Homo sapiens: one gene and its partners. The protein of the gene in region 1 purifies or fractionates together with the protein of each later gene. This does not show direct contact. Each region holds a gene or a part of one and is shown in the gene's direction. Other genes may lie near its edges. The genes, in order: GMPPA, LPP, NMNAT2, ACOT8 and AVIL.

What was found.
Region 2: the proteins of GMPPA (region 1) and LPP fractionate together in Homo sapiens (co-fractionation; one large-scale study listed by BioGRID). This does not show direct contact.
Region 3: the proteins of GMPPA (region 1) and NMNAT2 purify together in Homo sapiens (co-immunoprecipitation; one large-scale study listed by IntAct). This does not show direct contact.
Region 4: the proteins of GMPPA (region 1) and ACOT8 purify together in Homo sapiens (co-immunoprecipitation; one large-scale study listed by IntAct). This does not show direct contact.
Region 5: the proteins of GMPPA (region 1) and AVIL purify together in Homo sapiens (co-immunoprecipitation; one large-scale study listed by IntAct). This does not show direct contact.

The regions. Positions count from the first base shown.
Region 1 is NC_000002.12:219,503,158-219,508,851, forward strand, and holds the end of GMPPA (mannose-1-phosphate guanylyltransferase regulatory subunit alpha), read left to right. Parts: intron 1-925; coding exon 926-1,056; intron 1,057-1,696; coding exon of another isoform or gene 1,697-1,711; intron 1,712-2,070; coding exon 2,071-2,205; intron 2,206-2,300; coding exon 2,301-2,398; coding exon of another isoform or gene 2,399-2,557; coding exon 2,558-2,604; intron 2,605-2,822; coding exon 2,823-2,915; intron 2,916-3,096; coding exon 3,097-3,265; intron 3,266-3,540; coding exon 3,541-3,641; 3' UTR 3,642-3,832; downstream 3,833-5,694. UniProt on the Homo sapiens protein: Regulatory subunit of the GMPPA-GMPPB mannose-1-phosphate guanylyltransferase complex; reduces the catalytic activity of GMPPB when part of the complex. Mediates allosteric feedback inhibition of GMPPB catalytic activity upon binding GDP-alpha-D-mannose.
Region 2 is NC_000003.12:188,873,504-188,879,897, forward strand, and holds part of LPP (lipoma-preferred partner), read left to right. Parts: intron 1-847; coding exon 848-976; 3' UTR 977-6,394. UniProt on the Homo sapiens protein: May play a structural role at sites of cell adhesion in maintaining cell shape and motility. In addition to these structural functions, it may also be implicated in signaling events and activation of gene transcription.
Region 3 is NC_000001.11:183,413,920-183,420,985, reverse strand, and holds the start of NMNAT2 (nicotinamide/nicotinic acid mononucleotide adenylyltransferase 2), read left to right. Parts: upstream 1-2,605; 5' UTR 2,606-2,718; coding exon 2,719-2,803; intron 2,804-7,066.
Region 4 is NC_000020.11:45,842,693-45,848,672, reverse strand, and holds part of ACOT8 (acyl-coenzyme A thioesterase 8), read left to right. Parts: coding exon 1-223; intron 224-4,252; coding exon 4,253-4,410; intron 4,411-4,900; coding exon of another isoform or gene 4,901-4,935; exon of another isoform or gene 4,936-4,951; coding exon 4,952-5,146; intron 5,147-5,396; exon of another isoform or gene 5,397-5,980. UniProt on the Homo sapiens protein: Catalyzes the hydrolysis of acyl-CoAs into free fatty acids and coenzyme A (CoASH), regulating their respective intracellular levels. Displays no strong substrate specificity with respect to the carboxylic acid moiety of Acyl-CoAs.
Region 5 is NC_000012.12:57,810,745-57,817,138, reverse strand, and holds part of AVIL (advillin), read left to right. Parts: exon of another isoform or gene 1-1,079; 5' UTR 1,080-1,098; coding exon 1,099-1,164; exon of another isoform or gene 1,165-1,882; intron 1,883-2,912; coding exon 2,913-2,987; intron 2,988-3,715; coding exon 3,716-3,912; intron 3,913-6,011; coding exon 6,012-6,120; intron 6,121-6,212; coding exon 6,213-6,323; intron 6,324-6,394.

The DNA.
Region 1 (5,694 bases):
AGTCTCACTCTGTTGCCCAGGCTGGAGTGCAGTGGTGCGATCTTGGCTCACTGCAGCCTCTGCCTCCTGGGTTCATGCCGTTCTCCTGCCTCAGCCTCCTGAGTAGCTGGGATTACAGGCAGGTGCCAGGCTAATTTTTGTATTTTTAGTAGAGACAGGCTTTCGTCATACTGCCCAGGCTGGTCTCGAACTCCGGAGCTCAAGTGATCCACCTACTTCAGCCTTCCAAAGTGCTAGGATTATAGGCATGAGCCACCACCATACCTGGCGTCACATACTCCTTTTATTTGTTCGTGCTTTAATATAAAACATACATATAAACACGCACACACACATGCATGTACACACCTACACACATATAGTTTTGTGCTCAGCACCAGGTAGCTGTGAGAGAAACAGAGCCAAATGGGTGCAGTCCCTGCCTCTTGGTTACTGTGAGTCTAATAGGAGTGACAGAATCAAAAGGCAACCTTTGCAAATGATACAATGCCATGGGTGAGGCGTGGCCAGAGTTCAGGAGTGCCCAGGCATGAACAGCTAACTCGGGCCAGCAAGAGAGGACGCACAGAGAGAGTGACAGTGTCAACTGGGTTTGGAAAGGTGGGCTTTCCAGATGAAGAGATGAGAAAGGCCATTCCAGGCACAGGCATGCAGTCGGGTGGAAATGCGTCTGAGAGGTAGGTGGTGGGGAGGATCAGGCAGGGAAAGCCATGGACTTTGGATTTATCTGAAGCTGAATCAGGTGAAGGGCAGTCATCTCAGGGTTTAAAGCCAGGCAGCAGTAGGATGCGGATGCGCACTGCATTTTAGCCAGGCCACCCTGGCAGCAGGGAGGAGAGGCAAGAAGGGCCTAGAAATCAGAGGGTCTTAGGGGACTGTGGCGGTAGTCCCTTCTTCTACTGAACCCAGCCTGCTCTGTCCTCAGGTATTGCACTATGTGGAGAAACCCAGCACATTTATCAGTGACATCATCAACTGCGGCATCTACCTCTTTTCTCCTGAAGCCTTGAAGCCTCTTCGGGATGTCTTCCAGCGTAATCAGCAGGATGGGCAATTGTGAGGCAGGCCCCATAGCCCTGTGACCCCAAGTACCCCCAGTCACGGACCCCAACACATACCAGTCTCTGCAGGCTCCATCTCAACTTGCTCACCTTCCTCCTCCCCTCTCCCTTCTCCACTTGCCATCTCCAGCAGAGCCTCCTGAGTCCCTCCCCTTCTAACCTCATTCTGTCCCTCTTCCTTATCCATCCCAGTTCCTCCTCTGTCACTGCCTGCCCACTCCCCTTCTGGTCCATTTCTCCTAAGCCCTGAGTGTCCCAGAGACGTCTTTCAGAACAGACAGCAACACACAGTTGGGCGCACACATGCTCGGGTGCAGACGTGTGCACGTGCACACACAGACAGACATGCATACTCTCAGGCTGAGGCTCCCCTTGGAACATAGCACCAGAGCCCTGCTCACCAGTCCCAGGGTCTTCCCTCCTGGGGCTAGAAGCTGTTCCCTTCTAGGGATCCTTGCCTTAACCCCCCACCGCCCCATCTAAGGCCTCCTCTGCTCATAGCCATTTCTCACTCCCACCCGTGTCTCTGCTTCCCTCTCCATCTCTCCTGGCCTCTCTGTCTCTGTCTCTGCTGAGCTGGCATCTCTACCATCTCTCTCTCCCTTTCTTTCTGTGACTGTCTCTGCCCTCACCAGCTGCCTTGCTCTGGGGTGAGTCTGTCTGTGTTTCATTCCATCCAATGAGGGGGAGGGTAACTTGGAGGGGGTAAAGGGCTGAATGGGGATGAGAATGTGAAAATGGGGGGAACTCCTTATGGAAATGGGGCAGGGATGGGAAGCAGGCCTCTGCCTGGGGCTCCCTTGTGATAGCACCCACCCAAGTGGGGGCTGGGTGGGAGAGGTTCCTGGGATGTGAGCAGCCACATCCCAGAGAGGGCCGAACCAGACCTGGAGAGAGGGGCTTAGAGAGGTGGTGGGAATCCTCCTACTCCTGTCCCTGGGAGACTGTGTTAGCCCCACAGTCGGGGCTCAGCTGGGGGACTAATGTCAGCATTCTTCCTCTCTGCCAGGGAGGACTCACCAGGCTTGTGGCCAGGGGCAGGTACCATCCGCCTAGAGCAGGATGTGTTTTCAGCCCTGGCAGGGCAGGGCCAGATATACGTGCATCTCACTGATGGTATCTGGAGTCAGATCAAGTCCGCAGGGTATGGAAGGCTGGGTCCCCTGGGGATTGAAATTTTGGGGTGGTGGGCACAGGCCCTGCTGACCCCTGAGCCCCTGTCCCCCTTGCGGTCCCCAGTTCAGCCCTCTACGCCTCCCGCCTCTACCTGAGCCGATACCAGGACACTCACCCAGAACGGCTGGCCAAGCACACCCCAGGGGGCCCATGGATCCGAGGTACCCAGCCTGCCCCAATTCCTAACCTTTGGCTTCCACCCCAGCCCTCTGAACCAGGATTCTTGACCTCGAGTCCAGAGTTAAAGCCTCAATCCCTGCCCCTTCCTGATCAAATTCGGTTTGGGATATTTGCCCCCAGGGCCTCTCTTCTGCTTCTAGGGAATGTGTACATCCACCCGACCGCCAAGGTGGCCCCCTCGGCTGTGGTGAGCACTGGTCCCAGCCCCAGGGAGGGAAGGGTGGTGGTCGGATGGATGGAGGGTGCCCACGCTGCCTGAGTTCTGGGTGCCGGTTTCTTCACTTTGTCACAGCCTATTGTGTGTCCTCGAGCAGGTCACTTATGCCTTATCTGTTCTAGAAGGGAGTTGGGTTTGGGGATCCTCCAAGTCCCTCCAGGGCTTATGGTGTGTGCTTCTCTCCACAGCTGGGCCCCAACGTCTCCATCGGGAAGGGGGTGACCGTGGGTGAGGGTGTGCGGCTCCGGGAGAGCATCGTCCTCCATGGAGCCACTTTGCAGGTAGGTACCAGCATACACAGCAGCATGTGACACCCCAAGAGGCTGCGGGGAGGGCCCAGGCATCCCCCCAAGAACAGAGAAGGGTGAACGCCGTGGGCTCTGCATCTGGCCACACCTCACACCCTCCGGTTCCTGCTGCCTCCTGCCTCTTCCCCTTACCTTTCACTGTCCTCTTTGGCAGGAGCACACGTGTGTTCTGCATAGCATCGTGGGCTGGGGGAGCACCGTGGGACGCTGGGCCCGCGTGGAGGGTACCCCCAGTGACCCTAACCCCAACGATCCCCGAGCCCGCATGGACAGTGAGAGCCTCTTCAAGGACGGGAAGCTGCTGCCTGCTATCACCATCCTGGGTATGGCTTCCTGGGGGCCAGGGCTGGGGGAACCCCTCAGCTGATGGCCAGTGGCCCCGGGGAGCATTCGTTCCTCTGTGTGCACGCGTGTTTCTTCTTTTAGCAAACAGTTACCAAGGGCCTGCTGTGTGCCAGGCCCTGTGTGAGTCACCGGGGGCATGAGACCAGGGGCACAGATGGGCAGGAGGGCTCCCTCCCTGCTGGCAGTGGCCCCCAGCTCCCTGCCCCTGTCTCCCCTCCCATGACCTCCCCTGGTGCCCTCATCCATGCTGCAGGCTGCCGAGTCCGGATCCCTGCCGAGGTGCTCATCCTGAACTCGATTGTTCTGCCACACAAGGAGCTGAGCCGAAGCTTCACCAACCAGATCATCCTCTGAGTAGGGCTGCCAGAAGGCCCCCAGCTCCTACCCACTCCCCTTGAGGCTGCTGCCTGCTTGGCCAGCCTCTGTCCAGAAAGGACCAGAGAAAGCCAGGCTGGATCGTCACATGCCGGGGAGCAATGTGGATGGCCTGGGGACTCCTGGGTTTTCTCCCTCCCGACTCCCTAATAAACCCCGTGAACCTTGGAGCCAGCACAGACTGTACTTATGTCTGGGCTGGGGGTGGGGGCGGAAGCGGGGCAGCTGAGTCAGGCCCCCCCACATTAGCATTTAAATTGGAGTCGTTGCTGTGGGCTCATGAATAATGAATCTGGAGCCCTGGTAAATCTCCCCCTCCCACTGCCTCAGCCTCGTGCTGCTCGGGAGGAAGGCCCTCTAGGCTCCCCTGCCAGCCTGGTCCCCCCCTTCACCCCTGCCTCCCTGCCTCCCTGTTCCTCCTCACCGGGCCTGGCTCAGGCCCCCATGTGCAAGGATTCCGAAGGGAAGGGTGAAGGATTTTGGTTGGGCAGCAGGCAGAGGAACTGGGGCCACAGGCCTAGAGGCTGATCCCCACAGCCCGCTCTGCTCGGTTCCCGCTGAGCCCAGCCCTGGCCGGTTTTCCGCTTTGCCAGCTCCATCTGCTCCCAGCTTGGCTTTTGGCAGGGTGGGGGTTTTGCCTCTGCCCGAGGCCTCATGTCTCTGTCTTCTACTCCCCTGGCAGGCTGGGTGGGCCTGAGCTGGTGCCATTCTCTTCGGAAGCACAGTGGGAGGTACCCTGTTCTGGGAAGGCCCTCACCACCTCCTGTCCCCCTGGCCCTGCCCTTTGGTAGGTCTCAGCCCTCCTCTCCCAGCCATCTCTCATGTTTGCCCATGACCCCCATGTGCCCCTCTTGGTGCCCCCCTTCCCCAGCTGTGGGTGTGGAGCTGTGTTGCCAGATGAGCTGGTAATGATCGTAATCTGCTAATTGAGAGGAATCTAATTACCCGAAGAGAATGGGGGGTGCAGGGCATGGGTGGGAGAAAGGAGGGGGTCCTGGCAGCAGGCAGGGGTGGCAGGCAGCAGGGTGCTGGGGCCTTGTTATCAGCACCAGGCTCTGGGACAGAGCCCAGGGTTTCATAGCTTCATAGCCTGGCAGTTAGGAAGCTGCGCCTTCTCAGGAGCTGGACTGAGGTTGACTTGGGGATTGGGCCAAATGTGACCTCCCAGGCCCCTCAGGTCCCGTGGGCTGTGTGCCAGCATGTAGGGAACGATCTACACAGTGTGGGGTTTAGCAGTCCTGACCTATAAGCTGTCCCTAGTTCCTCAGTTCCTCCTGTCCTGGCCTCCAGCCCAGACCTTCATTATCTCTCTTCATGGGAGTGGGAGGGGGCTGCAGGTCCCCACTCTGGGCTGGGGTCATCACCCCAAGGAAGGGGCTGGGAGAGGGTGGGCCATAGGACCAGGGGCTAGGTCCCTTCCCTCTCCTCCCCCCTAGTCCTGACCCTTCTGTTCCGAGTGGTTGGCAGAGGCCATGGCAGCTCCATCATAAATATGATAATTTAATTATTTTCTCAGCAAAACACCGTGAAATCCAATAAGTCTGTGTCAGGCCCTGGCCCCCGGGATCCCCCTCCTAGACCCAGTGGGGGTGGGGACATGGTGGGGAGAGGCAGTGGAAGGGGAAAGGGTCAGTGTTTGAAGGGGGGTGCCGCTAGCAAAGCTGAGGTCTTTGTAACATGCCCCCCAGAGGTCTTTGTAACATGCCCCCGAGATTGAAGGAGTCACCATTGTTGGGGGGGGTCTAAGAAGGACATGCCCCCCCCACTCCTCCCCAACCCACTTCTGTGCTGGGAGGGACCTAAAGTCCCATCCATCTCTGAGAGACCCAAGATGGAGCACCTGCCCCTGGACGGGGTGCAGGGGGCCCCTTTGTCCACCGCTGCTGGGACCCTGTGCCCAACCATCATTGGCTGTTTAGGGGTAGGAGGGCGCCAGCCCGGGGAGGGTCTGGGAAGGGAGAAACAAGAGGGAACTGGGGTGGGAAGTGGGGGATGAGCGGGGGAGGGATGCGGGGGAGGGGTGCGCTCCTGC
Region 2 (6,394 bases), on another chromosome or scaffold:
GTTATATAACACTTTTCAAAATGGACCCTAAGAGGAGCTGTCAGCGGTAGTATATTCCTTTACAGTTATGCAGTTCTTTGCATTTTTTTTTTTGATCCATTATCTTCTTTGATCCTCTTAACAGCTTGGTAAGGTAGAAAAGGCAGAAGTTATTTTCAGAGTGGCAGTCGGCCTGTGTGCATTGAGGCAGACTGTAGCAAAACTGTGGGTGGTGCTCAGGAGGCCTGTCCCCTGGACTAGCAATCTTTGCTCTCCACAATGCTGTCTCCTTTAGAAAGTACAGCAAACCACTACTCCCCACAAACTTTAGGATTTTATTTTCTTACTGCAGTTGAAGTAAATACACCGAACCCACTGGTGGCCCTTCTGCTTGGCAGACATCAGTCTACCTTTGCTCTAGGCCAGAAATGGCCAAAACATTCCATTCCTGTACCTGTGCATGCATTTTGAGAGATCCTTAAACTAATGGTAAAGGGTAAAAAATGCATCGGTGGTTAGGGACATTCTTATTTTCTCTTGTTGAGTGGGGGCAGCAAACTTCTACATGGGAGCCAAGATGGGTGGCCTCTTCTCTTCTTATACCTGTATTTCATATCAAGTGAGCTTAGGAGGATTATATTTATGTCCATTTATATTTATGTCCCCAATCTCTAATTCAATTACATTCAAGATATACTATGTTATATATTGGGAGAAAGGATACAGGGGATTAGCAGAATGTAAAGCAGGAAGGATAGTAAGTGGCCACATTATGGAGGCCTTGAATAGAAAGCTCAATCATGATGTTCTCCACATGTGTACTTAACGTTTTTACTTATGTCGTTTCCATCTGTCTTTACTGTTCTAGGATTGCGGTGGTCTCCTGTCTGAAGGAGATAACCAAGGCTGCTACCCCTTGGATGGGCACATCCTCTGCAAGACCTGCAACTCTGCCCGCATCAGGGTGTTGACCGCCAAGGCGAGCACTGACCTTTAGATTCAGTCACCTGTTCAGCCGGCACTGAGAAGAACGAACACAAGAAAAAGATAAGAAATACTAGAGTAAAGGCCATCAAACTACGCGATAGTCTCTGTTCTTCATCTGCTATTAACCTTGCCTTAGAAACACATAAATTATGAGATTTTTTTTAAAAGTTGTTACCAAATACACATTTCACATTGAATCATGTAGGATCTTGATGGGCCTTTGTTCCCAAGGACTTCCACATTTTTGCACAGATTATGCTCCATCCCATTCACTTCTGCATTCCTGTAACTTTTAATCCCTATGTTTGTCTCACTTTTCATCTGGTTGAATGGCTTTTCTTAGTGTGGTATTTGCTGTCACATAGTTTTTCCTGGGTGAGTCTGCCAACTCACAGGTGCTTTTAGGCTTGAAATCTCCATCCTATCATTTCCGTTTTGCCTGTGACTGTAAAGAGTAGCCATTCTTTTCCCATGTATTGAAGAGGATATTCTTCTCTTGCTTTATACTACTCACGTCCTTGGGGAGGGAAATGCACAATTTTTTTTTGTTAGGCTGTAAAGAATTTAAGCTGTAAATTACATAAGTTAGAACAAGCCCAAATTTAATTTGCAACCATCAGAATTCAGAATCTATAGTGACCAGTGATCAAGGCTAATTGGAAAAGAGTTATCGGCCCATAGCTAATAAGTAGTGACAGACAACCAAGCTTCAATATTTTTCTAAAGAAATTACAGGTGGGATATGCTAGAAAAGGCATTTTGGGGTTATGTTTAAAAAAACATTATTGTCCCACAATATTACCTTAAGATTTTTCTTTTCCGCACTACCTGAACATTGTAATACAGACAAACTTGATTTCTTCTAGAAGATAACATTTTCAATACTGTCCCACTTCTCATCTTAAAAATATTGTCATGTTTATTCTAATATCCAACACAACTATCAAAATTGCCTTTTTCTCTAGAGGATGAAGGCTGTGAAAAAACCGTTCAAATTCTCTTCTTTTTCTTTTTTATTACCAGGTCCATTTTGCCTGACAATTGCAAATCAGAGCATACAAAATAAAACTGTGCAGTTTTGTTTGGTTTACTTTCAAAAGAGTAGAAAGCTTGAAAAGATTCTGAAACCACAGTTTCATTATTCTCATAATCCTTCTGCAACTGAAATTACATATTGCAGGAGACATTTTCATATCATCAATGTGACATTTACACCACACTTTCAAAGACAATCACTGAAACAAAAATTGTCTTTATGAGCTAAAAATATGCAGAATCTCTGCCTAGAATCTTTATTCAAACTTTTATTAGCCAGTGAAACACTTGCTTGCCAACTGCCAAGCCATACTTATTAAGTTCGAACATGTTTCACTTAAGGAGAGACACCTAGCTTAGTCATGGCAAGTTGCCATTTTGTAAACTAAGGATTTTGGACTGAGATTTCTTAAATCTTTCTTCAAATCTCCCACAAGTATATACTTTTAAATTATGGAGTATTTTAAGTCTACAAAAAGGTATAAATAATAATATAATGAATTCCTATATACCTAATACCCAGTTTAAGACACCAAATATAACAAGTATAATTACATCCTCCAATGTACCGTTTCCTTATTCCACAGATATCTTTTTCATTATTGTGAAGTGATGTTCAGATTTCTAGTTTTTTTTCTAGTTTTTAATTTTAACATCAGAACTGAAATAAAAAATTATGGATACGTGTTTTGAATTGCAAACTATTCCTCAGGAATTCCAATTAAATTTATTTTACTTGAATAGGAATGATCATAAAAGTGATTCTTTTTTTGTGACTAGAAATTCTTAAGCCGATGGTCACTATAGCTCATCCTTAATGTATGGCTCATTTGCTTTTGTCACTAAACGGTTTTGTGTTAGAACCACCAAAATTATAGCTTTTAAGAGCTTCCTTTGACCACTGTCTTTTTCTTACCCTAGTTCTCTTATCTTTGATCGTATATTTCTCATAATGTGAAATATGATGAGATTCACTTAGGGGCAGCATGTTAGTTTTGGGAGGCAATGTCAACTGTGTCTCTGAATTCCTGTCTTCCAAATTGAAGCCAGACCATGCTGATGACCTCAAGTAGCACTGACTATTTGACAATAGGGCTGATAATGTAATCGGCTTGAATTTTGACTTAGTAACTTTTTATGTAATACTTTCGGAGAAATTCTCTTTAGGACAAAGCAGAGAGTCCAATTTATTGAGGGATAGATTGTATCTCTTAAAGTGGTCATATTATTATTAATTTTGCCAAAAGAAGAAGAATTTATTGAATATTTATACTATAAAATGCAGTAACATTCTACTTGCTTATTACATTTAAATCCTTGTGTAACTGAATGTTTACATGTCAAGAGGAAAAGCTGTAAGAAAATGCTGTCACAGACCCATCCCTGTGGCATCGTCAGCAGAATACTGCTTGCTTACAATCTTTATTATGCATTCTTATAACATAACCTCAGAGTATCTTTACCAAAGGTTTTTAAAGTAAATCTCTTTTTAAGATAGACTTATTCTTTTATAATAATGAATGTGCACTCATACATATGTAGAAACATTTAGATTTAGAGTTTTTTTTTTCTTTCACAAGGTATAATAAGGAAAGGATCCTACAATATTTTATTCTAGGGTTTCTTAAATATATGATTTATATTACTGTCTTTTCTATTAATCATTTGATTTAAACAATGCCAAGTCACTCTTTTTTAGTTGCATGAAATTTTGCCTGCAACAGAGAGAAAAAGATTGTATTACTTTAATGATTATAATCATACTGTCTGCTGATATAATATCATAATTGTTGTGGTTTAAATACATAAATAGTAGAAAAATCAGAGTCTATAACAGAAAGTTTGTAAAAATATACTGATTTTGAAAAGTATCAGGAATATAAATATTTGGTAATTCTGTGTAACAAGAGAGACATGGAAAAGGAAAAAAATCCACTATATCATGGGCTCTGCAGAACATATCAAAATAGGATTTCTTAAATTTTTCAACCCCCAGACCATACTGACTCAACATGGAGTCTCACTGGCCAAGAAAATTGCCTTTAAAACTCGAAAATAAGGCCAGGTGTGGTGACTCACACTTGTAATCCCAGCAATTTGGGAGGCTGAGACAGGAGGATTGCCTGAGGCCAGGAGTTTGACACCAGCCTGGGCAACATAGTGAGACCTTGTCTCTACAAAAAATAAAATAAAATAAAAACCAAATTAGCCAGACATGGTGGCATGCGCTTGTTTAAAAAAACAAATAAATAAATAATCGACTCAAAAATAAGTCATGTGTCCCAGCATAAGGCATCAGGTTGTTAGATGCTGGCATCTCTGCAGCTCAAAGATGTGGGTTCTTTTTCTTGTCATTAACACATTGTTATTTCTGTAGGAGCAACTTCTCTGATCAAAATTACTTTTCTGGGTATGTGCTGATTAAGGGGGTGGACTTATCAACACTATAATTGTTCCCTATGAAAGATTCCACAGAGATGTTTATGGTGAGGTTTAAAGGATATGAAACTCTACATTTAAACAAGTATTTTATATTTGGGTACAGAGGAAGAAAGAGAGGGCTTTTTCCATGGGGCTATAGTAGAGAGTTAGTGGAATATAGACAGGACTCTGAAAACACAACTTCCAGCCATTTTTTTAGTTAGTAAAAATCCTATTAATGTGAACCAGCCAGGAATAACAGTGTTATTTCTATTGGATATGGTTTGGGCTTCTCTTGTCAAATCTGTGTCGGCTGCCCCCTGATCCTTCCATTATCAAGTTTTGAAGGGTGTTGGGGAAATTATGGCAGCTGCTAGGGAGATCAGGGAAACACTGATGTAACCTCAAAGCCTCTCACCATTCCTCTTGGCTTGGAAAGGCTTTATTTTTTCATATACATTTCTAGAAATATTGCTATTCTACCTTAGTATTTCACATTTGTAGTTCAAACAAGCGATTGTCCATCTGTTGCCTAGAGCTATAGTACATGTGTGTTATGAATGAAATATGACAGCATGTTCCATACCCCTGCTTTAGCCATCTGTGGGAAACCAGCAAACTGAAAAAGACACCTCTGCAAAATGTGCCTCAAGTCCATTTCTTGGGATCGCTCGTTTGGTGCACTCTCGTGGGAGACAATCAGAGAACAACATATACTTGTGCCTTATTTTCAAAGAATCTATTTACACTACTATGAATATTCCACTGAAGAGTCAATGATGTAAATGATAACCACCAAATCTCAAAAATATACTCACCAAAAAGTAAAAAAGTAAAAAAAAAAAAAAAAGAAAGAAAGAAAAGAAAGAGAGAGAAGTCAACTTTTCATCTTAATATATTCTAGTAGTATTTATTTTTTCCTTGTCTTGGAAGTATCTCATAGGTCTTTAAATGAGTAAAACATTTTTATGCCAGAAGGTGATATAATGGATGTTAGTGTTTTTTATTTGATTTTACAGTAGTTTTAGTCAGATAATGAGGACAGAGACTTCAACTTGATTCTTTACCACCATTCAGCATATTTTTTAATTGTCTTCATTGTATTTGCTTAATAGTGGTCCAGACAAGTTCAAAACTTGTTCTCAGTGAGGCATTAATATGGTGCAACCATGAATATTTCAGGCCAAGTTATTCACTTGACAGATAACTAGAATGAAACTTTTCTCATGAGGCTGTTGTTTGGTTAGCATAGCCTTATTTCAAACCTTAAAAAGTTACCTGACTGAAGCTACTATGACTTGGTAAGGATTCTTCCTCTCTTGCTTTCTTCCTCCCTTCCTTTCTTCCTCTTCCTTCCTCCTCTTCTTATTTTCTTTCCTACTTTCCATCCTACCTATTAGTGTTGCTGTACTTGGATTTTTTGTAAATTAAATCAATGCATTATGATTTTAGGGAATTATGATTATATTCATAAGGGGAAGGCTACCAGAAAATATATGTGGCATCCATAAAATCTTCTTTTATAGGGGCATATTTTTTAGGTTGTATTTATTCGTAAAGTGAAATGAGATAATAGAGTCTTTCTGTTTCATGTTAATGAATTTTCATCAGGGACTGAGGTCATAGATTCTTGGAAAATTCATTTGTGACTGATCTAGTTTTCTCAGCTGTATGCAAAGTAATCTTTCAAAGACTAGGTTAAGATTTTTTTTTTAAGTCTGAAGCAATGTAACCCCAAAAAATTATAATTTTAATGATGGCATTTTATTTTATTCCATTGCAGCTTGATAACTTTCCTTATAGCAAAGGAATAACTATTGTATTTTCAGAATTTTAACACAGATTAACACTTAGCCTGTAAGACTAATAATATATTGTAATAGTTGATACTAAAATATTTTTCAGCAGGTTGGACAGCACCAGTTTTTCTTAGATCACAGACTACAGGCAGAATTTCCCTTCAATCCAGAAA
Region 3 (7,066 bases), on another chromosome or scaffold:
TTCCCCTGGAATGTGAGCTGTATTAAAGCAGGGACTCTGTTTTGTTCACAGCCCCTAAATCAGGGCTTGGTGCATGGCTGACACTCAATAAATATTGATTGCTTAACTATAATTATGTCAATTGCCTAGCTAGTGAGTCTCAGTTTCATACCTGAGTCAACCTCCCTTTACAAGCTCTAGCTCTTTTTAAGCCACTAATCTGCATATCATATTAGGGAAGATACAAACCCCATTATAAATATATATCAGTTCTTAGGAGTCTTCTATTTAAACTAGAAATTTTATGCGTATTAGGGTTGATTTGCTATTCATCATAATTTAACAAATATTTACTCCACACCTACCACATGCTCTTGGATAAGAAAAAACACAGTGACCAACTCACTAATATGGGGTGGAAATTTATCCAAGAAACTTGAAGCCCAGGATAGGTACGTATTTGTACTTGTCAATCTCTAAGTTAAGAATTATTGGCTCTGGCTGGGTCTGTGGCCCATGCCTTTAATCTCAACAGTTTGGGAGGCTGCCGTGGGTGGATTGCTTGAGGTCAGGAGTTCAAGACCAACCTGGGCAATATAGTGAGATCCCATCTCTACAAAAAACACGAAGAATTAGCTGGACATGGTGGCAAACACCTGTAGTCCCAGCTACTTGCAAGGCCGAAGTGGGAGGATTGCTTGAGTCCAGGAGATCGAGGCTGTGGTGAGCTGAGATCATGCCACTGCATTCCAGCCTGGGTGACAGAGTGAGATCCTGTCTCAAAAAAAAAAAAAAAAAAAAAAAGAATTATCCTCTATATCCAATTCATCTGCAAAGAATTATTGGTTCTTTCTGTTGTATAAGCATAGAACATCTATCTTCCCCTACCATTCTCAATTTCAGTCTACTCATTGTTTAAGCCAAATTTCAAAATCTATAAAACATATCCTGAGACCATCTACTTCTCGTTGCTCCCGTCTCTATAAACCCTGGTCTCAGGACAACTCCACTTGCCTAGGCTACCAGATTTTCCTAAATGCTTTCCTTGTCTTCCCATTTGCCCTCCCTTTCCACCCAGCAGCCAGAGTGATCCTATAAAAATGTAAATTACATATTATTCCCCTGCTTAAAAGCTTCAGTGGCTTCCTTTTGTTATTATTCCACTTAGAAAAGTGTCTAACTCTTGCCCTAGTCTACAAGCCCCATTTGATCTGGCCCTGATCACCTGCTGCTCAGTCTTCTATCATTTTTCCCCTTGCCCATACTTTCTAGCATCACTGGCCTTTCATTTCTATGAATACAGTAAGCCCTTCCCTGTCCCTGAATACGTGAGCTAGCAACTACTCCTGTCGCTCAGGTCTCACTGAAATGTCACCTCCCCAGAGAGGCCTTCTCAGACTACTTGATTCGTCCTCTCTTCTCCACTCACTCTCTGCTCTGTCAGAGAGTAAATTGCATTCACTTACTGTGCATTGCACAATTGCCATCTAATATTTATTGTCTATCTTCCTCCAGTAAAATGAAGACAGTGACTTTGCTTCACCAGCAGGGTTTATAGCAATACTTGACACATAATGAGCCCTCAAGAAACACTTGTTAAATGGTAAGTCTTTGTCTCAACTTTGGTAGCTTATGGAGGATCCCCATCATTTTCTTTTTTCTTTTTTTTTGTTTCGAGATGGATTCTCGCTGTCGCCCAGGTTGGAGTGCAGTGGTGCGATCTTCGCTCACTGCAACCTCTGCCTCCCAGGTTCAAGCAATTCTCCTGCCTCAGCCTCCTGAGTAGCTGGGATTACAAGCACTCGCCACCATGCCCGGCTAGTTTTTGTATTTGCTTTTTAGTAGAGACAGGGTTTCACCGTGCTGGCCAGGCTGGTCTCGAACTCCTGACCTCGTGATCCGCCCGCCTCGGCCTCCCAAAGTGCTGAGATTACAGGCATGAGCCACCGCACCCGGCGGATCCCCATAATTTTCTAATACAGTTTTAGTAACTCTGCCCCCTTCATGTTCTCTCAAACGGATAGCATTGCTTCGCCCACGAAAAGGATCAGTATTGCAGAGGAAGGGCTTAGATCACCCCTATCTCTCTGCAGCCAGCAGATCAAGATTTGGACTCAACTCAATAGTTTGGAATCATCAGATAAAGGAAAAAGGAAAAGCAGAAATGAATACTACTGAAATAAACAATGGTCATTTCTCACTTAAAATTTTGAGGAAGAGAGAAAGAAAAAATACCTTAAGATCAAACATTTTTTAACTTGGAGATGTTAGAGAAAGTAGGGGGGACAGAAAAATGTTAGAATGAGGAGGAAAACTGAATCAAGATGAGGCAAGAGGCAGAAAGAGCTCACACCATGCTGTGGGCTCTTGGTTCTGAGCTTGGATACCACGTCTTGCCTTCTGGATAAACTCTAAGGAAGACAGTGATGGAGTGAAGTGGGCTGGGGGCGATAGAGAGGATGGGGTGGGGCACCAGGCGAGAGATGCGAAGGAAGCCAGAACGAAAAGAGAGCGACCGAGGAGAGAAGAGAGCAGAGCAATACAAAAGCAGCCTCGGATCTAGCCGGAGCTGCAAGCGTTAAGGGGAGGCGGAGAGTGACGCGGTTTGCGTCTGGAGCGGCTCCTTGGAGTCCACAGCATCCACCGCCGGAGCCTCGCCTTCCTTTCTCCCTCTGCAGACACAACGAGACACAAAAAGAGAGGCAACCCCTAGACCACCGCGAAGGACCCATCTGCACCATGACCGAGACCACCAAGACCCACGTTATCTTGCTCGCCTGCGGCAGCTTCAATCCCATCACCAAAGGGCACATTCAGATGTTTGGTGAGTCCTCCCGCCCACCTCTGGAAGCCGCTTCCGCTCCTCTCCTTTCCCAGGCACCTGTGTTTTCCAGGGCGATCGAACGGGAAGGCGTGTGCCCCTTCGGAGGGGTGGGCCGGCTCATCCAGCTGGTGGAGGTCGGCCCCTTCATTTTGGACTCAGGGGAGGGTACGCAGACTGCGTTTCCGAGGCGTCACTTGCCGGGGCCAGACCCGGCTCGCAGGGGGCCAAAGGTGGGGGATGGGAGGGGACTAGAGATGAGTATCATTTGGGGCTGGGCAGGGGTTCGAGATACCAGAACTGGAGTGTGGCGGTGCGGTGGTTCGGCTACCAGGCTGGCGAAGACCGGGATGGGGGCAGAGGTTGGGGCGCCGAGTAGGGGAGGAAGGGGCTGGAGATAACGTGCTGTTTGTTTAGGATGGGCCGAAAGCTCGAAGGAGTTAAATCATGTATGTGCCTGGGATTCGCAAACACACTCGCGCCCGACACACCGGTGACAGGGGCTGGGGCTTCAAGATTAATTTCGGATTTGGCTGGTGATTCTGGGCGGCCCAGGGACCAGTGTTTGGGAATTGTGGGCCGTGTATTGCCCGCGCGAGGTGGATGCTGAGTGAATAGGGAGGGGGCCCTTTTCCGCCTAGGTTCGGCCTCAGGGACCCGCTGCCTAGGACGGGGAGGGGGCCGGGCGGAGGCTGCGGGAGGCCCTGCGCGAGCCGGAGCCGAAGGATCGGGGCCCAAGTTGGCTGAGGCTCTGCCCAGGGTGGCGATGGCACTCGGAAGGCTTGAGGCGTCTAGTGTGTGTACGAATGTGCGAATGACTGTGTGTGAGTATATGCGTGTGCGTGTTGGGGGGAGGGGACTTATCGCGCGTTTGTTTCTTAGAAGCTTTGGGGCGTGGAGTCAGAGAGAGCGAGCGGGGGCATCCGGCTGGCTGGTTCGGGGTCCAGCAGCGGTAGGGGAAAGGTGATCGATAGATGCCTATTGGAGGTCTCGCGCCACCGGTGGGAAGCCACGCGGCTTCGCAGCTGCTCGTAGGACTCAAAGGCGTGGGGCATGAGCGTTTAGACACGGAAAGAGGGACGCGGAGGTCACTTTAGAAGCAGGAATTGAGAAGTTAGAAGTTGGGGGTGCTTTTTCTTGAAACTGAGAGAAGCGAGGAGTAGGGAAAAGCGAGTGGGCTGGGATGGATGAGAGAGCGTGTGGGAGGCCCTGACCTGGCCCGCCAGCAAGGCGCTCTCCAGAGGCGGCGGTGCTGAAATGCAGGGCGCGCCGGAGCTGGATGCGGGCACACGTGTTTATCCGGAGCCTGAGGACTGCGCGAGCCCTCCTAGGGAGGTTTAGTGAAAACCACACCACAGCGGTAAAGACAGGGCGAGGTGGCTTAGGCTAAAAATATTCATCTTTAAACTTAAAAGGTGCGCTGAACTGGGCTCGCTTGTTAAAAACCTCATGGAAAGAATATAGAACTACTTTGAGCAAAGGGCAAATCGGGTAGGCATATCTACACGATAGAAGGAGGGAGGCTGAGAGATAGCCATCCCTTCTTCACCATTCCTTCAGCTTTCAAAAGTCTTTTATTAAGAACCAATGCCAACTTGCCTGTTAAATAAGGACTTCTGTTCCAGCATCAGGGTAGACAAGAGCATGTCATCAGTCTTCTAAGGACTATCAGTGCCCTAAGAACACTCCACTTTCACTTTCCTTTGATGCTGGTGTCTTCATCCCTTTCCTTCTTTTCCTGTCTGTCCATATGTCCTCTAGCACTTTATGTTGATGCGCTTTACTCCTCTCCCTTGACCAGGCAATGATGGGTTTTCCTTTGGAACCAAGAGAAAGGAGGAGTAGGGAAGAGCCATTGGGCTGGGGATGAAACTCTGTGGCTCTAAGAATCTTTGATGACCCAGCAGGTACTGCTCCTTTCTTCCTGAAGCTAGGAAATCCCAGTTGTTTTAGATTACAAGAGAAACAGATTTGGATTGAGAACCAAAGATTCTGTCTTGTAGCTGAAGATTCTTTGTTAACAGTAATAAAGGCTTTTGTTAAGCGAATGCTGACCTGCCAATTCTCCATGAGCTTCAAGGATAGACTATGTGGAAATAGACCTGAGTTGCAGTGGAAGGGTTTAGATATAGAAAGGTGAAAGGAGACTTTTGGCAGTAACGATTATTTACTTAGTATAAGAACTGAGGACCAGGGCAGAATGTGAACAAAGTCCTTTGCATGTCCATTAAAGTATAATTCAGAGAGTAATACAAAAAAAGGATATAATATGTTCACTCACTATGGCTTTAAGGAGTTTATTACCTAATGAAGAATTTAGCACATAAACAGGTGAAAATGAGGCAAGAATAAGAACACAAAATACACATTCAACTATTTTTGGTAGAATGTCTTATTGGAATCTTTGAGCTCTGGATAAATTTTATAATTTATTTTTGTAGAGCAGTTCTGGTTAACAAAGCCATTTCATCTATGTTATGTTACTTATTCCTGTTAAAAACCTTATAAGAAAAACATTATTACCCTTATTTTACAAATGAGAAACTGACAGAAGCCAAGTGACTTATGAACACACATGGAGAATGGGTGGCACTGAGACTTGAGCCTCATGTTCCTGATTCCTCTTGCAGAGGCCTTCATACTGCAACAAAGGCTGGAGGAAGTGCCCGCTCATCTTCTGACTGCATAATTCCATGAACACTCTATTTTCATGAACCATAAACTAAGAGAATTAAACTGGCCATCAACTAAGTGAGATTCATATATGTGCTTTTCCTTAAGATCTTTGTCTCATGTCTAAAGAAACCAGTTATTTATGAACTATTTCCTCCTTTTAAATTGCTTTAAAAATTTTCTCTGTGACAACACGGAAATAATTAATACAACTAAATTATCAAACTTTTGGCCAGGTGTGGTGGCTCACTCCTACAATCCCAGCACTTTGGGAGGTGAAGATGGACATTAACACATGAGCTCAGGAGTTTGAGACCAGACTTGGCAACATGGTGAAACCCCATCTCTACAAAAAATATAAAAATTAGCCAGGTATGGTGTTGCATGCCTGTAGTCCCAGCTACTGTGGAGGCTGAGGTGGGAGGATGGCTGAGGTGGAAGCCTGGGAGGCAGAGGTTGCAGTATGCCAAGATAGCACACTGCACTCTATTCTAGGTAATACAGCCAGACTCTGCCTTAAAAATTTTTTTTCAAGCTTTCTTTAAGGTGACTGAAATTTGTAATAATTTTTTTTTAAAAAACAGACACAAACAAGACTTTGAAATTAGGCATTTTAAATAGAGCTCCTATATCCTGAAATTCAATTTCTTATCAAAGGAAAAAGAGAGACTGTAAACAAAAAGAGAAGTGACATTCAAAACTCACTCTTCATCTTTGTAAAGTAGCACTTGTACAATTCTCAATATTTGTAAATATTTTTAGAATGAACTTTTCTTTTACTCTGAAAGGGAAGTTGATATTATTTCTCCTATTTGAAACTATAGAAACATACAGGAAAAAATAGTATTTGTGAGAGATATTTGACACTTGTATACTCAACTGTAACTAAAATGCTTTCAGGGATGAGTAAAAGTTTTTGGCAAAGTAAACTCATAAATGAGTGATGTCATATCTCATGGGTCTGCCTCATTACATAAGAAGATAATGTGGAATTGGAAGTTTTAAAAAATGTAACTGCTTAGTTTTTAACTATGTAGAGATTATAATTTAATGTAGCTTTCTTTACATTTATAGCTATATTTGTCAATAAATCTACCACTGGGAAGTCAGAGAGCAAGTTTAAATAGAAAAGTAAGAAAGGACAGCTCAGATTATTTTGGCTATATAAACAAAAACAGAGGAATTGGGGAATTTCATCACAGCAGAAATATTTCTAGCTATTTTTTGTATTTTTTTCTATTTTAATTTGTAGATATAGGGTCTTGCTCTGTTGCCCAGGCTGTAGAGCAGCAGCAGGGTCATGGCTTCCTGCAGCCTCAAACTCCTGTTTCTGCTAGCTGCAGTTTAAATCCATGACTCCAAAAACTATTATCTTTTCACTGCGCTCTGATATTGTCTCCAAAAATTACCAAAGTCTAGCATCTTTCCTCCTTTTAAGCCAGTCAGAGGTCTAATGCCTGACAGAGAGGAATAACCAGGTTGCAAGGAGTCATTCATTCAGGTCGGGTGGTTAATATCAGGGAGAGCTTTCTGAAATAAGCTTCAGTGAGAACAATTGGAATTGGAAACTTATGGCAGCCGCTGTTTTTGAAA
Region 4 (5,980 bases), on another chromosome or scaffold:
ACCCGAAGCTGCCAGTACTGTACCAAGTGGAGCGGACACGAACAGGGTCGAGCTTCTCGGTGCGCTCTGTGAAGGCCGTGCAACATGGGAAGCCCATCTTCATCTGCCAGGCCTCCTTCCAGCAGGCCCAGCCCAGCCCCATGCAGCACCAGTTCTCCATGCCCACTGTGCCACCACCAGAAGAGCTGCTTGACTGTGAGACCCTCATTGACCAGTATTTAAGGTGAGAGACCTGGAGGCTCCATGGCAGACTTTTCAAAATGCAGCTGCTATCTGTTTGTGGGTCATAGAATCCTTTAGTGGGTCTTGACCAGCATTTTTAAAATACAGATTAGAAAAGAAGATACTGGAGTGAATAATATGTATGTATTAAGGGCAAGAATCCTTTTGTGAAACTTGAGGTTTAGTCATGTGTGTTTCTGGTGTGTGTCTGTACTGGGTCATGGTATAAAATGAAGGGCTTGGCCGGGTGCAGTGGCGCATACCTATAATCCCAGCACTTTGGGAAGCCAAGGCAGGAGGATTGCTTGAGACCAGGAGTTGGATACTAGCCTCGCCAACATAGCAAGACTCCATCTCTAATTTAAAAATAAGGCTGGGGCTGGGTGTGGGGGCTCATACCTATAATAACACTTTGGGAAGCCCAAGTGGGAGGATCACCTGAGCCCAGGAGTTCAAGACCAGCCTGGGCAACATGGTGAAACCCTGTCTCTATAAAAAATACAAAAATTAGCCGGGTGTCGGGGCATGTGTCTGTAGTCCCAGCTACTTGGGAGGCTGAGGCGGGGGGATCACTTGAGCCTGGGAGGTGGAGGCTGCAGTGAGCCGAGATCGTGTTACTGTGCTCCAGCCTGGGCAACAAGAGCAAGACTCTGTCTGAAAAAAGAAAAAAAGAATATATATTTTGTTGTTGTTTATATATATACATGTTTGTTTGTTTTTGAGATGGAGTCTTGCTCTTGTTGCCCAGGCTGGAGTGCAGTGACACCATCTCGGCTCACTGCAGCCTCTGACTCCCAGACTCAAGTGATCCTCCCGCCTCAGCCTCCCAAGTAGCTGGGATTACAGGCACCTGCTACCATGCCCAGCTAATTTTGTATTTTTAGTAGAGATGGCGTTTCACCATGCTATCCAGGCTGGTCTCAAACTCTTGATCTCAGGTGATCCACCCACCTTGACCTCCTAAAGTGCTGGGATTATAGGCATGAGCCACCATACCTGGGAAAAAAAACCATATATATATTTTATATATATATGTATATAGAAATACTTCCGTAACCACTTGTTAAGTACCACCTCCCCAGCCCCCTAAGTGATTCCCTCTCTCCCCCAGGCCCCTGGTCCAGCAACTTAGGACTTAATGCACACCAGGAGTGAGTGTCCTCTGGAGAGCTGCAGCGCTATGGCCTATGTTTGGTCACTGCCTTTGCATTAGTGCATGTTTTTGTTTGTTTGTTTGTTTTGAGACAGAGTCTCGCCCTGTTGCCTAGGCTGGAGTGCAGTGGCATGATCTCGGCTCACTGCAACCTCTGCCTCCCAGGTTCAAGCAATTCCCGTGCCTCAGCCTCCCAAGCAGCTGTGATTACAGGCACATGCCACCATGCCTGGCTAATTTTTGTATTTTTTTAGTAGAGACCAGGTTTCGCTATGTTGACCAGGCTGGTCTTGAACTCCTGACCTCAAGTGATCGACCTGCCTTGGTCTCTCAAAGTGCTGGGATTACAGGCGTGAGCCACCGTGCCCGGCCACATGTTTTATGTATATAAAACATATGTACAAAAATACAAATATGTATTTTCCCCTAACCATTAGACCACCAGGGAGCATGTTAGATATTTTGAATACCTGGTAAAATATATTTATTTGGATCACACCTAATCAAGTTTGAAAAATGCTGGTACAGGGGAAAGAGCTCTGGGTCCAGACAAAGGATAGACACATGGATTCTGTCCAGGGCTGTGCCTCTGTGAATGCTCACCTGCTGTGGGACAGTGCCCAACTCCCCAGGGCCCTAGTTTCTTCTTCTAAAAAATGGGAATGCTCATTTCTGCCCTGCCTACTTCTTAGCTGTATCATAAGGAGAGAATGTCTCTATCTCGTGTTAGATACTGGGGAGGCAGCAGAGTATGACGGGATGGATGTGGGTTTGGGAACCTGAAAGGCCTGGATTCAATTCTAGATTTTGTCCCTACTAGCTGTGTGAGTTTGGGCAAGTTGCTTTCCCACTCTGAGCCAGTACTCACCATTATAAAATGGTGCTAATCATATTCCTACCTCATAAGGCTGCTGTGAGGATTAAATAAGAGAGAAAAGGCACTTAGCGTGCTAGTACTAACTAGCACAATGGCAGTGAATTGTAGTTATATCACTATTAACAGAAAAAACACAGGGCCTGGTGTGTGGTTGCAGTTCGACAAATGTTTGCTGAAATGAAAGGAAGACATTGTTAAAGGACCTTGAATTTAGATCTGTGCTGTTAATAAGGTAGTCTCTAGCCACTCGTGGCTATATTACATTAATTAAAATTAAATAGGTCCGGGCGCAGTGGTTCATGCCTGTAATCCCAGTACTTTGGGAGGCCAAGGCGGGTGGCTCACCCAAGGTCAGGAGTTTGAGACCAGCCTGGCCAACATGGTGAAACCTCATCTCTATTAAAAATACACACACAAAAAAATTAGCCAGGCGTGGTGGCCCGTGCCTGTAATCCCAGCTACTCAGGAGGCTGAGGCAGGAGAGTCGCTTGGACCCAGGGGGCAGAGGTTGCAGTAAGCAAGATTGAGTCACTGCACTCCTGACTGGGCAACAGAGCGAGATTCCGTCTTAAAAAAAAAAAAACAAAAAAAAACCAAAGTCAGTAGAATGAACAATTCTGTTCCTCAGTTGCATTAGCCACATTTCAGGTGCTCCATAGTCACATGTGGCTAGTGGCTACCATAGTGTGCTGTGCAGATAGGCATTCCATCATCATAGGAGGTTCTGTCCAACAGCACTCCAGAGGATAGGGGTGAAAATGGCAGGACCTGTGCAGAGCACTATGGGTGGTTGTCACTGTATTGAAGGGAGTTCCTTGGAATGGGCTCCTCCCCCTGGGGGGATGCAATGTTCCCTACTGTGTAGGGTTTGGTAACTCAGGCCAAGTCAGGCAGCCTGTTTCTTGAGTGTTTAAAATAATGAAGTGGCTGGGCACAGCAGCTCACTCCTGTAATCCCAGCACTTTGGGAGGCTGAAGTAGGAGGATCACTTAAGGCCAGGATTTTGAGACCAGCCTGGGCAACATAAAGAGACCCCATCTCTACAAAAAAAAGTAAAAATAATCCCAGCATTTTGGGAGGCTGAGGCGGGCGGATCATGAGGTCAGGAATTCGAGACCACCCTGGCCAACACAGTGAAACCCCATCTCTACTAAACATACAAAAATTAGCTGGGCATGGTGGCAGGCGCCTGTAATCCCAGCTACTCGGGAGGCTGAGGCAGGAGAATCACTTGAACCTGGGAGGCGGAGGTTGCAGTCAGCTGAGATTGCACCACCGCACTCAAGCCTGGGTGACAGAGCTAGACTCCGTCTCAAAATAAAGAAATAATAAAAATGTTAGCCAGGCACAGTGGCGTACACCTCTAGTCCCAGCTACTCGGGAGGCCAAGGCAAGAGGATGGCTTGAGCCTGGGAGTTGGAGACTGCAGTGAGCTGATTGCGCCACTGTACTCCAGCCTGGGTGAGAAGACGACCTTGTCTCTAAAAAAATAGAAAATAATCATACTGTGGACCCAGATTGCCTGAGTCCAAATCCTGTCTCTCCAATTTTTAAGCAAGCTACCTGGACTCTGTGCTTATTTCACTGATGAAATGGGGGTGATAATAGTACCTATCTCACAGGGTTGTTGTGAGGAATACTATTGTATGTACAATGCTTAGAACAGTGCATATTACAGGGTATGCCTTATTACTATGATGTGTTGGTTAGATATTCATGATCTTGTCTTCACAGTGTTGGTTATGAGGTAGGTTACTATCATTATCCACATTTTGCAGATGGGAAAATAGACTCAGATTACTAATTAGCACGAGACCACATGGCTCGTAAGTGGCCAAGAAGGGATTCAAACGCTGCACTATCCTGCCTGCCACAGGGGAGGGGAGCTTTGGGGATATCAGGGGTCCCTGTGGAAGAATGAGGGGAGTCAGAAGAGGCAATGCAGATGTGACTCCCTCTCTTCCTGGGTCTCACCCCGACCCTCTTCCCTTTACTTTCAGGGACCCTAACCTCCAAAAGAGGTACCCATTGGCGCTCAACCGAATTGCTGCTCAGGAGGTCCCCATTGAGATCAAGCCAGTAAACCCATCCCCCCTGAGCCAGCTGCAGAGAATGGAGCCCAAACAGATGTTCTGGGTGCGAGCCCGGGGCTATATTGGTAAGAGTACCCCATGGATGGGAGGAAACCACTCTCCAAGGGGTCTACCACTCATTTGCTGTGTGGCCTTGGGCACATGAGTTCCCTTCTCTGGGCCTGTTTCCTTATCTGCATGATGGGGAAGTTGGCTTAGCTTCTCACCTGGGCCCTCTCAGCCCTTTGCATGGGGAGAAGGTGGAGATGACTATAATCCCGACACAAGGCCTTTCTGAGGAAGGCAAAAGGCACCTCGCTGGGGTTGTTGTCCAGCTTTGCTGCTAACTATAAAGTATCTTTGTGCAAATTGGAAGAAGACACCCCTTTTGGGGCCTAGAGTGGGAGACTTGGGTGGTGAAGACTGAATTTCAGTCCCTGCTCACCCCTGCCCTCCCCAAGTCGCCATCTCACTTCTCCCCTATCACACACACACACTGTAGGCCAAGCGCTCTTGTGCAGCAACCAGTCTGCACACCCATGCACGGGAGTCCCTTTTCCCCCTACCTCCGTGCAGGTCCTGAGCTGGAAAGCCCAGGAGCCCAGGGCTGATGGGGACCTGTTGCAGGCGAGGGCGACATGAAGATGCACTGCTGCGTGGCCGCCTATATCTCCGACTATGCCTTCTTGGGCACTGCACTGCTGCCTCACCAGTGGCAGCACAAGGTGCACTTCATGGTCTCACTGGACCATTCCATGTGGTTCCACGCCCCCTTCCGAGCTGACCACTGGATGCTCTATGAATGCGAGAGCCCCTGGGCCGGTGAGTGTGGGGCCGTGTGGGACAAGGGCACTGACCTTGAGTGGCAGGAGCCTGCTTTCTTGGGTGATGCTGATTTCCCGACTTCCTGTGTGGCGCTGCACAGGTCACTTCCTTTCCTTCCCTCCCAGGCTTTGGCATCTTCATCTTCAAAATGAGAGGGTGAGGCCGGGACACCTGCTCTGCTCTAAATTTCTAGAATGTGCTGGAAATGTGATTCACCTTCTCCCAGGGACCCAGTTCTAGTCCCAAAACCAGTTCAGATTCTTTGTATTACAATAGGCAAATCATATCTTCCATCTGAACCTCAGTTTCCTCATCTAAACAAAGAGGGTTACATTACAGCAGTGGTATCCAAACCCGCAGTCCATCAGACTGCCATTTGGGGATGCCTTTTCAAAATAGATTCTGATTCCACCCTCAAGATTCTCACTCAGTAGGTCTTGGATAAGGTCCAGGAAACTGTATTTTTAAGTTCTCTAAGTGATTCTGATTAACCTGATTGGGATCGGGGCATTCAGTGGTCCCTAAGGGCCTGCTTGGACCTTCCTTGCAGGGGAGAGAAACAAGACTCGTTCATCAATGTCTAGCTTCAGAACCCTGACCTCCTTTCCAAGGGAGTACATTTCAAATGAAGAAAAGCTTTGCTTGATAAACCAAGGACAAAACTCAAGGATTCTTTATACTCAGATAAGGGGTATTCTCAAGTACCAATAGCATCACAATCCAAGATTGATAACCTTGAAGTGAGGACATGGGTTCAGATTTGGCTTCATCATGGGGCCAAATTCCTGACCCTCTCTGGATTTCAGTCCTGGTCTGGAAAACTGGACAACA
Region 5 (6,394 bases), on another chromosome or scaffold:
AAGCTCCTTGAGAGCAGGTATTTTAATTCTATAAAGCCTCTACGTGGCCTTGGACATGGGTAGGTGCTTAATTACCCAAGATGCTCCTTGAATACAGATGGTACACGACCTACACAGACTTAGATCTTTACCACTTCCCCCCTCTCCCCACCCTGACTTGCTCAATCCTGAAGGAACTGGAGACGTCTAAGTGTCTGAGGTTCACGCTTCCACACAGAAGCTTGGGTCTGTGTGGGAGGGAAAAAGGAAGCCATCTGTCCGCAGGCCAGACCAGGCCACACCCTGCTAGCACCCAGAACCCTTTGTCCCAGGCCCAGCCCTGCCATTTTACTTTCCTTGCATCTGGAAAGCACAGGGAATATAGTAGTGACAAAAGAAGGAAGGGTTGTTTGAGTTTAAGAATAGTTTACTCTAAAAAAAAAAAAAAAAAAAAAAAAAGGACAAAAGCCAAAGAGAAGGTCAAAGTTGACTGTGGAGAAGGCCTTGCAAGCAGGGAACTTGGGAAGAATTGGAATGAGAGTGAGAGAAGGCAACTGAGTTTGGAAATATTTTTTCTGACTAGCTTTTCTTTCCAAATGCCACTGAACTTAGATTGGTTTAGGAAGGGTTGTAGTACATCAAAGTGGCTAGAAGCACAGGTTTGGGGATCAGATAAGGATTTCATTCTAGAGTGTGATCTTGTACAAGTTATTCAGCCTTTGCAAACCTCAGATTCACACAATGTAAGATGAAGAAACTCACCTTCTGAAAATTAGAGATAACATATGCAAAGTGAATCAATACAGGGCTTAACATATTTATCACCCCTTTGGTAAATAACCATGACGATTACCAGAGCTCTTAAGGGCAATGGCAGGTGGGAAGCAGAACTCATGGGTGGTAATCCCCAGGCCAGCCAGGCTCACCATGTGCACTTGGACAAGTCCTTGCCCCCATCATTGTGAAATGGTGCAGGGATGCACCATGAGGGTGTGGCAGGATGGCTGACAACAGACTGGGAAGCAGCTCGGCAGAAAAACTGGATTGATGCCCACTATGGCAAGAGATATCATCTCCCCTCTTGTTCTGTGATGTTTCAGTCCTGGAAAGACAAGCATCATGCCTCTGACCAGTGCCTTCAGGGCTGTGGACAACGACCCTGGGATCATTGTCTGGAGAATAGAGGTGAGCTGGGCTGGAGGCACCTTACTTGTGACCACTGGCATCTGGAAGCAGTCTGGCTGCCTGGGGCTGCTAGGCAACAGCCCGCCAGCACCCCTTAGCCTATGGTTTGAGGAGAATGAGAGGCAGCATCAAAGTACCTATTTCCCATCCTTCACCTCTCCTGGGTGCTCAAAGCAGGTGGTTGGCAGGTGGAGGAAATGTTCAGCCCCGAAGAACAGGGCTCCAGACAAAAACAGGCTTGTCCTTTAGCCAGCCACCTGCTCAGTGAGTCTGCACTTGCAGGAAACACCCTGGAAAGACAGGTGGGACCTACTCAGCAGACTCCTGGCAGCTTCCATCAGAGAAATGGAACATGTCTTCCACGGGGCACCCTGGCTCCTACAAAATATGGGGAGAGGTGAGGGGGCACTGCAGAGATGAGGAGCTGTTCAGCCCGTCTCCTCTTGGGCTTGGGACCCTCTGTGCGGCTGTGAGCTCCAGCAATCCATAGCTGGGAACCACCCTGGCCTGGGTAGCTCCACCTGCCAGATACGAGGATTCCCCCCAACCCCTGCCCTGAGCCCAGTCAGTTGCTGCTGCCTAAAACCCAGCGATGATGCCTCACTTCACTATCCTCAACCAGGAGGGGGAGTCAGCTCTCCAGCAAGCCTCGCAGAGATTGTGAGTCCCAGGTCACTTCCACTGTTTGAAGGCTTCCAGTTTCCTTAAAAACTAACAGGTACTGGCGGGGTGCGGTGGCTCACGCCTGTAATCCCAGCACTCTGGGAGGCTGAGGCGGGTGGATCACGAAGTCAGGAGATTGAGACCATCCTGGCTAACACAGTGAAACCCCACCTCTACTAAAAATACAAAAAATTAGCTGGGCATGGTGGCAGGCGCCTATAGTCCCAGCTACTCAGGAGGCTGAGGCAGGAGAATGGCGTGAACCCGGGAGGCGGAGCTTGCAGTGAGCCGAGATCGCGCCACTGCACTCCAGCCTGGGAGACACAGGGAGACTCCCTCTCAAAAAAAACAAAAACAAAAACAAAAAACAAGTACTAAAACACGGTTACCAGATTTGCAGTATATTTAACATTTATCACATTTTACATAGAACACACACAAGTATGGCCGCAAGTTTCCCTCACTTGGGGAGTGTGATGAAAATCTACATCAAGGCTGTGTGAACAGTCCTCCAGGGCCAAGCCATACATGCAGTGATAAATCAGGGCCCTGACCCAGACTCCAAATATAAGACACTTGGCACAGAGCCCTGCTGACCGCTGGCACTCTCCAAATGTTATCCTCCACCTCCCACGGCCCCACAGAATCCAAGTGTTCTTTCTTACATGGGCCTGGGCCAGCACCCAGTGGTCAGCGTTGGGAAGAGCGTTGGAGGTGCTGGCACAACGGCTCAGAGAAGGGTTTGTACTTGGTCGTTTATATCCAGCAAAGGGCTGGAGGTGGTTCACAGGTTTCCCACAATAGTGCGAGATGAGATCGGGTGGGAAGTAGAGTGGAGAATAGGGCAAGGGAAAGCAGGATAGGGACCAAGGTTCAGATCCGGGGTGATGCAAGCAGAGCTCACAGAAGCCAGAGGGATGGCCACGTTAACCCTGTGGCTGGCAGCCTCACATCCTGTAAGGTCATTGAGAACATCTCCCCTCCTTCTCCCCACCACCTGCACCGAATGACAGAGAGGAGAGGGAGGCTCATGGGGAAGGGAGGTGGGAGGGGATGTAGCCTATACCCACCCCTTGTCCTTCCAGAAAATGGAGCTGGCGCTGGTGCCTGTGAGCGCCCACGGCAACTTCTATGAGGGGGACTGCTACGTCATCCTCTCGGTGAGCACCCTCCTCCCCACTCCTGTGAGCCTCTCCCCTGGGGCCAGTTCTTGGGCTGTACTGGGAGATGTGCTGGTGAGGGAAGGTAGTCAGTCCCTGGTATCGGTCTCAATGGTTCCTCAGTGCTATGCAGAGCAGACCTCCAGTCTGACTATCAAAGGCCATCATTAAGCCTGGGTTTTTAATGCTGCATAAGAGGATGGGGGTAGGACCCTCAGTCTGAACCTCAGTGAGCCACCCACAAGCAGCACTTCTCCCGGGCCTAGGCCCCACATTAAAGTGGTGTGGAAGAAGGCCTGATAAATGCAAGGCCTGTCTCTAGCCTCAAAGTGCTATTCTCATGGAGGAGACTCACATGAACGGTGCTGACAGGGTCGTGCAGGTGTACAGATGAGCACTGTGCCAGCTGTGTGAGTGCAAGGGACCAAGGGGACCTGTGAGGTAAGCCTGCAACCCGGCTGGGAAAAGATCCCCGTTGGTATCTATTTATTTGGGGAACAACAAGCTGTCAACTTTCCCCAAATGCGGGGAGGAATTTGGGCTGCCAAAGTTTATGCCATGATCGCAGGTCTGCTCGGGGGCCAGGGCAGCTCCCACATCCACTGCAGGAGAGAGGGCCCTCAGTCTGCCAAGGGCATGCACATGTGCTGCATTCTCCCCATAACAGGGGCCAGCAGCAAAGGGGAGGTGAGCTGGCCTCTGACCTGATCTCTCTGACTACCTCCCAGACCCGGAGAGTGGCCAGTCTCCTATCCCAGGACATCCACTTCTGGATCGGGAAGGACTCCTCCCAGGATGAGCAAAGCTGCGCAGCCATATATACCACACAGCTGGACGACTACCTGGGAGGCAGCCCTGTGCAGCACCGAGAGGTCCAGTACCATGAGTCAGACACTTTCCGTGGCTACTTCAAGCAGGGCATCATGTGAGTAGGGGTGCACAGAGCAAGGACAGAAACAGCAGTTTACAGAGGAGGAAACCCAAAAGGCCAACATGCATTATCAAGAAAGTAATCAGAGAAATGCAAATCAAAACAAAGCTGTCACTTCCACCCACTAGAGCAGCAGATTAAACAGCTGGGAGGTGCCAAGTGTTGGCAAGGCTATGGGGAAATAGGAGCCCTTGTGCCCTGCTGATGGAAGTGTGGACTAGCGCAGCATCCTGGAGAGTAGTCAGTGCCACTTGCAAATCCCACTTCTGCATGTGTAACTCACAGAAATCCTCACGTATCCAGGTCCATAAGGGCACATGGACCAGACTGTTCATAGCAGCCTCATTAATGATGTTAGGAAGCTGCAGGCAACGTAGGTGTCCATCACTCGGAGACTGGACATGCACACCACGGAGTATTATGCAGTAGCCAGAAGCAACAGATTAGATACACACCTAACACAAGGACAGAGCTCACAAACATGGTGCTTAGCACACAAAGTAAGAAACAGACTAAGACATATAACAGAATGCCAATTTCTGTTTTAAAAAGCACACGCATGGCCAGGCATGGTGGCTTACGCCTGTAATCCCAGCACTTTGGGAGGCCGAGGCAGGCGGATCACGAGGTCAGGAGTTCAAGACCAGCCTGATCAACATGGTGAAACCCCGTCTCTACTAATAATACAAAAATTAGCCGGGCATGCTGGTGCACACCTGTAATCCCAGCTACTCGGGAGGCTGAGGCAGGAGAATCATTTGAACCCAGGAGGCGAAGGTTGCACTGAGCTGAGATCATGCCACTGCCCTCCAGCCCCGCAACACAGCAAGACACCATCTCAAACAAAACAAAACAAAACAAAAACATGCACACAAAACAACAGGATGGGTTGGGCGTGGTGGCTCACACCTGTAATCCCAGCACTTTGGGAGGCTGAGGCAAGAGGATAGCTTGAGCCCAAGAGTTCAAGATCAGCCTAGGCAACACAGTAAGACCCTCATCTCCACAAAAAATATTTTGTAAAAAAGCTAGCCAGGCATGGCGGTGCACTCCTATAGTCCTAGCTACTCCATGGGCTGAGGGTATTGAGCCCTCAATTATCGAGCCTGCAGTCCCTGATGAGGATCACTTGAGCCCGGGAGGTCAAGGCTGCAATGAGCCATGATTGCACTATTGAACTCTAGCCTGAGTGACAGAGTGAGACCCTGTCTTTAAAAAAAAAGGTGGGGGACACAGTTTACTAGAATGAAAATAAAAAGGTCAACAGTTAGAATGGAAGCGTATTGGGGAGAGGAATGGGAGTAGGACAGGCAGATAAAGGGAATGCACAGACACATAACACTAGAGAGGGAGCGAAGGCTGATGATAATGTTCCATCAACTGAGAAGTTTAACTCAAAACTTTGCCCCTGATATTAAAACAAAAAGAGGAATTCCAATGAGCTTGAGAATTGTGAGGCTGGGCCAAGATCAGCTTCTTGCAGGTCAGCAGTCTCCACTGACTGAGGCCCTTCTGGGCACAGAGGAGCACACTGAGCCACTGGGGAACCCAAGGACAGAGCCCCTCTGCTCCAGGGCTACCTTCCGCATTCCCTTAAAGTGCAGGACCCCTGGCTCGGAGGCTGGGCTGGGCTGAGTGCAGGGCGGGTGAGCTGATTCCTAGGGTAGGTGGTCTTAAGGCCGTGGAGTCATTAATGCTTCTGCTGCAGCACAACTTGTATCCCTCTCCCAGTAACACACTGGCATTCAGACAGTTCCTGGAACAAAACAAGCCCTCTGTGGTGCAGGGGTCTTTGTCACTGATGTCTCCTGGACACTGTTATAGTGCCTGGAGCACTATTCTTCTGGGTATTGGTTCATTTTCCTTGTAGTATCTCAGTTCAAATGTCATTTCTTCAGAGAAGACTGCCCCAACTCGCTACCAGAAAGTCACTCACCCAGTCTACTTGTGGGGCAGCAGCTGCCACCATCTGTATTTACCTTGCTGATGTACTGTCATCACATGAGTGAGGCTGCATCTGTGTAATTCACCACTGTCTCCCCAGAACCTAGCACATAGCAGGCACTCAAATAACTGAATGGATGTTCCCTTAGCTACAAGCAGGGGGGTGTCGCCTCTGGGATGAAGCACGTGGAGACCAATACCTACGACGTGAAGCGGCTGCTACATGTGAAAGGGAAAAGAAACATCAGGGCTACCGAGGTTAGTCCTGCACACTCTCTGCCCCAGGCCCGGGGCTTCTCCACCTGGCACCTAAGAATTCCTCCTGAACAATGTTTACCTCTCATCGACAGGTGGAAATGAGCTGGGACAGTTTCAACCGAGGTGATGTCTTCTTGCTGGACCTTGGGAAAGTCATCATCCAATGGAATGGCCCAGAGAGCAACAGTGGGGAGCGCCTGAAGGTATGGCTTCCTAGCCTTAGCACTTTCTCAAGTTCCTCTTTCTTCTTCCCTCCATGCTGGCTCTTCCCCAA